Linked DNA regions of Homo sapiens: all the other regions are linked to region 2. The links come from fine-mapping of genetic effects on plasma protein levels. A gene starts in region 2. Each other region holds a variant in brackets. All regions are shown on one strand. Distances are from middle to middle.

Region 1 (2,758 bases), 25 kb after region 2:
TTGAGACGGAGTTTCACTCTTGTTGCCCAGGCTGGAATGCAATGGTGTGATCTCAGCTCACTGCAACCTCTGCCTCCCGGGTTCAAGCGATTCTCCTCCCGCAGCCTCCCGAGTAGCTGACATTACAGGCATGTGCCACCACGCCCGGCTAATTTTGTATTTTTAGTAGAGACTGGGTTTCTCAATGTTGGTCAGACTGGTCTCGAACTCCTGACCTCAAGTGATCTGCCCACCTTGGCCTCCCAAAGTGCTGGGATTACAGGCTTGAGCCACCACGCCCGGCATTTTTATTTATTTATTTATTTTTAGACATGGTCTCACTCTGTTGCTCAGGCTGGAGTGCAGTGTTGTGATCACCACGCACTGCAGTCTCAGACTTCCCCGGGCTCAGGTGATCCTCCCACCTCAGCCTACCAAGTAGCTGGGAACCACAGATGTATGTCACCATGCCTGGCTAATTTTTTGTATTTTCAGTAGAGATGGGGTTTCATCTCTACATGTTGCCCAGGCTGCTCTTAAACTCCTGGGCTCGGGCAATCCACTGGCTTCAGCCTCCCAAATTACTGGGATTACAAGTGTGAGCTACCACACCCAGCCCGAACTCTAATTCTTCAGCTTTTTATTTTCTTTAGTTGACACCTGGCAAACTTCCACCATGGGAGTCAGGGGGTGTTTGTCAGAATTTGCTGGGAATGGGATGGGGGGCAGCTAGTTCTCCCTCGAGGCTGGGGTGTTCTGTAACCCTCAATCCTGGTGGACAGGAAGGGTTCCCCCACCAAATCTGAGGCCTGGGGAATTCTCAAAGCCCTCCCTCTCCCCTTCTCCACTGGCTGAGATGTCATGAGTCCTGGCTGGCCAAGAAAGGCTTCCTTGCCTCGGGAGCTGGAGGCCCAGGACACCTGGGTGCCTCTGGTATCCCATCAACAATGGTGGGGGATAGAGGAGGCAGGGCTGGGGGAAGCAGAGGGGTTTCTGCTGAGTTTCAGAGGCTGTGTTGCCAACTCTTAGCCACAGATAAAGAGGGCCAAAGAGAGTGTGGTCAGAGCTCAGCATGGTGATGGCATGACAGGGGATGTCCCCAAAGGCCACCCAAACCATCATCAGGCACTCTTA[T/C]GCCACCCCAACTGATCACATCACGATCCTGTGGGCCCAGCTTCCTCTCAAAACTTCCTGCAAGGCTTCAGCCATCCACCCTCACAGCCTCAGCACTGGCCCCAGGGAGGGTCCTGCCCACCCACATCCCTCCTCCCTCCCTGTCCTCAGAGCCTCCATGCTAATGAAACTGGCAAGAAGGCTGCTGCCGGCATCTGCTCCCAGCAACAGCCCTTCCAGGAGCTGGGGGTGAAGGCCACTGGATCAAAGGACTCCATGCCCTGCTTCCATTCTCTCTTATCGTCCTGGGGAAGGCATGAGCTGGAGCAAACTCAGGGGGCAGGTTCCATTCCAGGCAACAGGATGGCATCAATCTTATGATGGAAGAGCTGATGACAGTCTTATCATTTCTCATAGCTCCCCTCCCCGTCAGACCACGTGCCCGGGTCTCTGCAGGTCGGATCTGGTTCACCTCTTCTTGGAGTTATCGCCCGTGTACAGATGACAAAACTGAGCTACATACAGAAAGGCTAAGTGACACGGCCGCCGTCACGCAGTCAGTGGGTGGCAATACCGAGGGCGGGTGTTCGGAGCTACACTCTATGTCCTCCCACAGATTGGGCTGAAAAGTTCAGCAAACCTACAGCCAAGTCTACATTGAGCCAGTGTGCATTCTCAGAACATCTGAATGCCACTTTCCAAAGGCAGAGGGGGGAAATCCAGCTGTGTGTGTGTTTCTGGGCCATGCACGCTTCACCTCATGATGAAGTGGGAGTGGAAGGGTCACCCAACCCCTCCAGGGAGAATTCCCCTTTGCAGCCTCCCTCTCAGAGGGTGGCAATCAGTAGCCAACAGGTCCTTGTCTTGCCTGGGAGGTTAAAAGTGGCCTGAGGGAGGGAAGGTGGGGTTATTTCCATACACTTCCATCTGCACGCCAAGGGACTGGGCCCTGCAGCTGCCAATGGATGGCGGACGTAGAGTTTCCCAGATGAAGATGTTTCAGCTGTCCCCAGCCGCTCCCTACCATCCACCCTAGGGTCCTAGACTCCCCTGGGAGACTGGTGCTGAGCCGAGACCCCACAATCTGCCTGAGGCCTAGGGCAACAGATGTGCAGAAACCAGCGCAAGCTAGAACAGCAGCAGCTCAGCCCCAGTGCTAGAATCCCAGGAAACAGGAACCTCGGGTCTCAGGGCTGCCAGGTCTACCTTCCCAAGACCTGGGAGCTCATTTACTCCCTCGTTCATTCAACATTTATTTATTGAACGTCTATCATATGCCGCATGCTGTACTAGGCCCTGGGGATAGCGCCAAGGACAGGACAGGCTTGGTTCCTGCTCTCAAGGAGCTTACAGTCAAGTGTCACAAAGTCTACAATGGGGATGCTGCAGAACCCAACTCCAGGAGCCTTGGCCAGTTCGGTCGGCTCAGGGAAGGGCTCTGAGGAATTGAAATAGAAGCTGAGGACTGAGTAGGAGTTCATTGGGTGGAAGAGAGCTTTGGGCAGAGGCAATGGAGTAGATAAAGACCCAGAGGCCAGGGGGAGCCTGCCGGTTTAAGACCCAGAAAAAAGCTTCAGCAGAGCTGGAGCCTCGCCTGGGAGGGGTGTGGGAGGTGTGAGACGTGGGTCAGGGAAGCGTGGTCGGGCTGCTCTGGTTTTCTTCCCAG
Region 2 (2,715 bases):
CAGCTACCTGGGAGGCTGAGGCAGGAGAATCACTTGAATCCGGGAGGCAGAGGTTGCAGTGAGCCGAGATCGAGCATTGCACTCCAGCATGGGCAACAAGAGTGAGACTCAGTCTCAAAAAAAAAAAAAAAAAAAAAAGGTTTGGTATGAGAGTTCAGGCTGTAGTGAGTTATGATCGCACTCCAGCCTGGACAACAGAGTGAGACCCTGTCTCTAACATTAAAAAAAGTGGAGGGGGCTTCACTCTACAGAAAGGAAGCACATGAGCTTCAGCTGCCAAACCAAACCAGCAAAGCCCCCCAAGCACCTCTCACATCTCTTCCTTCCCTTCATCTCCCCAAGACCTTGGCACTCCAAACTCTTACCTTCCCCCAGGTGAGGGCTTGCAGAGCTGGGACAGGGTGTCTCTAGCCAGGGCTTTGTCCCCTCTGCCCTCTTGGGGGGAAAGGGGGAATACCTCACATTGCCCATTGGAAATGGAAGAGGGCATAGTTCCTCCTTTGCTGCATAGTTCCTCCCTCCTGCCTAAAGCCCACTCTGCCACTCTCCTCCCACTGCCTAAGGTTCAGATGACTAGAATTGATCCATAGCATGGAGTCCTCTCTTCCTGTAGGATTAAAGGGGAACTGGGTCTTCCCTCTCCCCCACCGTGACCCACCGCTGGACTAACAGCCTGCTCCTTCCTTTCCCTCTGTATCATTCAGCAGGCATCCACTCGCACCTACTATGGTTCTATGCAGGGGTCCACCGGGGTCCTGGGTCAGCTGAGGGCCTCTCTCTCCAGCAGCCCCTGGGCTCCGTGAAACACGCCTGGTTACTTTGCATTCTCCCCACAGTGATTAATTTGGCGCTGGCCACTGGTAAGTGCTCAGTTTTCCTAAAGCAGTCCCCAAACTCAATTCTGAGGCAACCCACCATAGACTTCAGCCCCACCACTGACCTTCTTCCAGGGGCAAATGCCCACCACGTGCTCCAGCGAATTCAATCCACAGCGTTGCTTTGCCGGACGCGGATTGGGGAAGCTAATCCCGGTGGTCCTGCACCCTCACCCCACTCTCACCCACAGCCAACTCTCCCTCCTTTCCTTGACCCTCCAGCCAGTGGCCAGCTTAGGAAGGGGGCAAACGGGACCGCGCACACAACAGGGTAGAGCGCGGACGACCAACCTCCCATGGCTAAGGGAGGCCCCATCTGGCCTGCCCACTACTCCCACGGCCTCACCTGATCTGCCCAGGACCCCGACGGGCCCGCAGGTAGGCGGGCTAAAGAGCGCCTCCCGCGTATGGCAGTGCTCTCAGTCCAATTCACACTGAATGAATGAATCAGTCCCAGCCATCGCGGGGTGAGAAGGAGGCGCCCCCCACCACTAGCCCTTCAGCCAGCCTCCCACCTGTGGGTGCTAGCATATTCCGGTGTTCCTGCTTGTCACCCGCGCCCCCTCACTCCAGCTGGGCAGGGAACGGGGTGAGGAGTGTCCTCCCTTGCGTCCCACGCACCCCACACTGTCCGGGCTCTGGACCGCCGGCACCTCCCCAGGCGCCCGTCACCCGCTTACCTGTGGGAAGGCTCGTAGCGCCCCCAGGAACAGCAGTCCCAGCGCGGCGAGGAGGACGCGCATCCCCGGGGCCGGACGTGAGGTGGCCTGGCGGCCGGCGCCCACCTGGGAAGCGGGGGAAGCGCGCGGCGCCCACGTGCGGTCCCGGCGGTTCTCAGCCGCGCGCGTGGACTTCAGGCTCCAGCACACTCCCGCCGCGGCCACCTAGTCCGCACCCAACGCACGCCGCGAAGTCACTTCAAAAGTGGTTGTTCCTCCGAGGTTTCAGCCTTAGTTCTCCCGTATCAAATTGGTTCCAGGAACACTTAGCTACAAGCAGCGAAGAAAAAAGGGGGCAAACACGTGCAGAGATGACTCAGGAAAAGGCACACTAGGAGACGCCTCCCTTAGCTGTTTGAATGGCCCGCCCCGGATTTGACGGAACTAGTGGTCCTGGCTCTAGGGAGTGTGCTGCCCGCCGCACCTGGGCTGCGGGGAGCGGAGGCAGGCAGCTTCTGGCCCTGGAGGTGGGGACTCACAGGATATTAGGAGGCCCCAAGGGGGTTCCAATGCCCCCACCTCCACTCCTGCCCCAAGAAACGGTGAAATGTGAGTAGTTTCCTGTCCCTGACACGATCAGCCAGGACCTTCTCCCATGCCCTTGAGATTCTTTGGAAGGGACAACTGGCCTAGGGAGACTGCAGAAAAAGCAACCATCACCCACCCATCCCCATTCATAAGCATTTGCTGTAAAATGAATCAGTGAGTGGATGATAAATTGGTGGATGGATGGATGGATGGATGGATGCATAGGTGGATGGATGGATGGATGGATGGATGGATGGATGGATGGATGGATGCATAAGTGGATGGATGGATGGATGGATGGATGGATGGATGGATGGATGGATGCATAGGTGGATGGATGGATGGATGGATGGATGGATGGATGGATGGATGGATGCATAAGTGGATGGATGGATGGATGGATGGATGGATGCATAAGTGGATGGATGGATGGATGGATGGATGGGTGAGCAGCAGGTGAGTGGGTAAATGGGTGGGTGGATGGGTGGATGGATGGATGCATAGATGGATGGATGGATGGATGCATAGGTGGATGGATGGATGGATGGATGGATGGATGGATGCATAAGTGGATGGATGGATGGATGGATGGA
Region 3 (2,758 bases), 52 kb before region 2:
TCACTGCAACCTATGCCTCCCGGGTTCAAGCGATTCTCCTGCCTCAACCTCCTGAGTAGCTGGGACTACGGTGCCCACCACCACACCCAGCTAATTTGTGTATTTTTAGTAGAGACGGGGTTTTGCCATGTTGGTCAGGCTGGTCTTGAACTCCTGACCTCAAGTGATCCACCTGCCTCAGCCTCCCAAAGTGCTGGGATCACAGGCGTGAGCCACCACGCCTGGCCATTCCCCTTGGTTTTGTCACCACTCTTCCATCTGTTTTAAACCACCTGGAGATTTGTTAAAATCTCTCAAAGCCCTTAAAAAACAAAAAACAACAACAACAAAAAACTGTCAGGGTTTTAGTTTCCTGCACACTGGTAAAGCCAACCGTCCTGTTAGAAATCTCTTCAGAAACTTGATATTCATCTCTCTAAGTCAATAAAACAGCCTTGCAAACAGGTCAAGATTTTACCAGCCCGGGGCTGGGCATGGTGGCTCAGGCCTGTAATCCCAGCACTTTGAGAGGCCAAGGTGGGTGGATCACCTGAGGTCGGGAGTTCGAGACCAGCCTGACCAACATGGAGAAACCGCATCTCTTCTAAAAATACAACATTAGCCGGCTGTGGTGGCGAATGCTTGTAACCCCAGCTACTCAGAAGGCTGAGGCAGGAGAATTGCTTGAACCCAGGAGGTGCAGGTTGCGGTGAGCCGAGATTGAGCCATTGTACTCCAGCCTGGGCAACATGAGCGAAACTCCATCTCAAAAATATAAAGATTTTACCAGCCCAATAATTTCAGGAAGAATTTTTTTTTAATCAACAGAATCTCTTGCCAAAATGCTAAAACTGGATTTTATCATTCCATTCACTGAGTCTGACTACTCAAAGGATAACCAGAACCCAAACCTGACCTAATGAACAGCCGAGGGTGTAGGTCATTTGCCTCCACCCCTGGCTGTTGGTGGGGAGAGGCACAACAGTGGGGGCACAGACTCCACCCTGTGGTCGAGGCCTGGGGTGGGAACTGCTTACCCTGGGGCTTGGTGACCGTCTCTGCTGCACAGATTGGGTAGGGGACACAGCGGGCACAGGAGTTGGTGGCTGATGTGGCACAGATCATGCCAGGTCGACATTCGCAGGTGCGGGAGGAGTTCCATGCA[C/T]ATGGCGTCTTCTCCACAAGGTCATCTAAGGGACACAGATGAGGATCACGGAGAAAGATCAGTATGGCAAGGGCAGGGGGTCCAGAGAGCCCCCAGGAAGACAGAGAAGCAGTTGTCCAAGGGTCATCCAACAAGAAAATAAATGCTCGTCTGACTATGCCGTTGAGCAGCTCTCCCAGCATGCTCAAAATAATTCTGCAGGGTGAAAGAAGGCAGGCAAAAAGCGAGGGTATTCTGTATGTCGCATTTACATGCAAGCTATTGCATGGTGACCATAAGCAGGGGATGGGAAATGGTGACAAGCAACCCGAGGTAACTTTTAGAGGGGGATGGCTGGTTGCTCAGCTGCATGCATTTGTTAAAACTTATCAGATTGCATCCTTTAATCTATGCACTTTACCATATGCCCACTATCTCTCCCTAAAGCTGTTAAAAGAAAGTCCTCCAGGGGACGGGGTGAGCGGGCATGGGTGCAGAGGAGCCAAGACTGGCCATGACTCCATAACCGTTTAAAGCTGGGTGATAGTACGCAGCCATCTCTGACTCACTCTACATCTGAATATGTTTGAAATTTTTAATAATAAAAAGATTTTTTGGCCAGACACGGTGGCTCACGACTGTAATCCCGGCACTTTGGGAGGCCGAGGCAGGCAGATCACAAGGTCAGGAGTTCAAGTCCAGCCTGACCAACATGGTGAAACCCCGTCTCTACTAAAAATACAAAAATTAGCCATGCCTGGTGGCACGTGCCTGTAATCCCAGCTACTCAGGAGGCTGAGGCAGGAGAATCACTTGAACCTGGGAGGCAGAGGTTGCAGTGAGCCAAGATAGTGCCACTGCACTCCAGCCTGGGCGACAGAACAAGACTCTGTCTATTTAAAAAAAAAAAAAAAAAAAAAAAAAAAAAGATTTTTTTTCCTCCAAAAGCAAAAAAAAACCATGTTAGAGGTATTATTTTTAATAAGTGTAATAATGCATTTGTACGTATTCGGGAATATTTTGCAACGCTCCACTTAGAGGTAAATACAGAACGACTGCATCAGTAGATTAGGCAAATGGGACCTCTCCGCGAGGGTAGATCTCAATCAGCAGGATACTTAGAGACCCAGCATGATAATGATAAGGGCTGGACAGTCTCTTCTTACAACATCCAGAGCAAGGGAACTGGGCAGGATTTGGGGAATTTGTGCAAAGGGTGTGTGTGAGCTCAGCAATGAATGAAACCATTTGGGACAATGGCAGCTATTATCATTATTATTATAGCTCTTAAGATAACTGAGTATGTGTGAGACAGTAGTCTCAGCACTCTACCCAGATTAACCTACAATCATGTATTCAATTCTCACATGGTTCTCTGAGATAGATAATACTATGCCCATTTTGCAGCAGAGGAAACTGAGGCACAGAGAGGTTAGGAAACCTGCTTGAGGTTATAGGCTATCAAGTGGGAGAGGCGGGATCTGAACCCGGCACTCGGGTTCTAGAGCTCATGCCTTTAGCTACTAATACACCACTCCACTGCCTCGTGGGGTTTCAGTTAGGAGAGCTGAAGGAATTACTGGGCCCAGAGCCAACACCTCTTTCTCCATATGTCCACATGGTGGTTGTGGCAGA

Alleles and levels. Alleles are on the strand shown, and positions count from the first base shown. The strength of an association depends on the size of the effect and on how common the allele is.
With allele C in place of T in region 1, the plasma level of the protein whose gene starts at base 1,914 in region 2 is higher (moderate association).
For the plasma level of the protein whose gene starts at base 1,914 in region 2, C is the high allele of the variant in region 3 and T is the other (moderate association).

Evidence for each region. PIP is the chance, under the fine-mapping model, that this variant and not a neighbour inherited with it causes the effect. Protein levels are from antibody-based Olink assays in UK Biobank. Linkage for the fine-mapping came from a reference panel and not from the study's own genotypes, which makes the PIPs less certain.
Region 1: its variant is fine-mapped to the plasma level of the TNFRSF8 protein (UK Biobank, PIP above 0.99).
Region 3: its variant is fine-mapped to the plasma level of the TNFRSF8 protein (UK Biobank, PIP above 0.99). The variant lies in the coding sequence of TNFRSF8. If it changes the protein, the assay may bind it differently, which can mimic a change of level.

What each region holds. Positions count from the first base shown.
Region 1 is chr1:12,037,644-12,040,401 of GRCh38, reverse strand. No RefSeq gene overlaps it. Among named protein-coding and RNA genes, the nearest start is that of MIR6729, 9.9 kb to the right of the region's middle. RefSeq lists an enhancer at 749-1,248 and a cis regulatory region at 1,031-2,153. The variant T/C (reference allele first, on the strand shown) is at 1,114.
Region 2 is chr1:12,062,502-12,065,216 of GRCh38, reverse strand. It overlaps TNFRSF8 (TNF receptor superfamily member 8), which reads right to left and starts at 1,914. Exons shown (of 15, transcript NM_001243.5): 1 at 1,556-1,914. The coding sequence starts at 1,618. RefSeq lists silencers at 1,522-1,651, 2,239-2,471.
Region 3 is chr1:12,113,988-12,116,745 of GRCh38, reverse strand. It overlaps TNFRSF8 (TNF receptor superfamily member 8), which reads right to left. Exons shown (of 15, transcript NM_001243.5): 8 at 1,017-1,169. Among named protein-coding and RNA genes, the nearest start is that of MIR7846, 52 kb to the left of the region's middle. The variant C/T (reference allele first, on the strand shown) is at 1,145.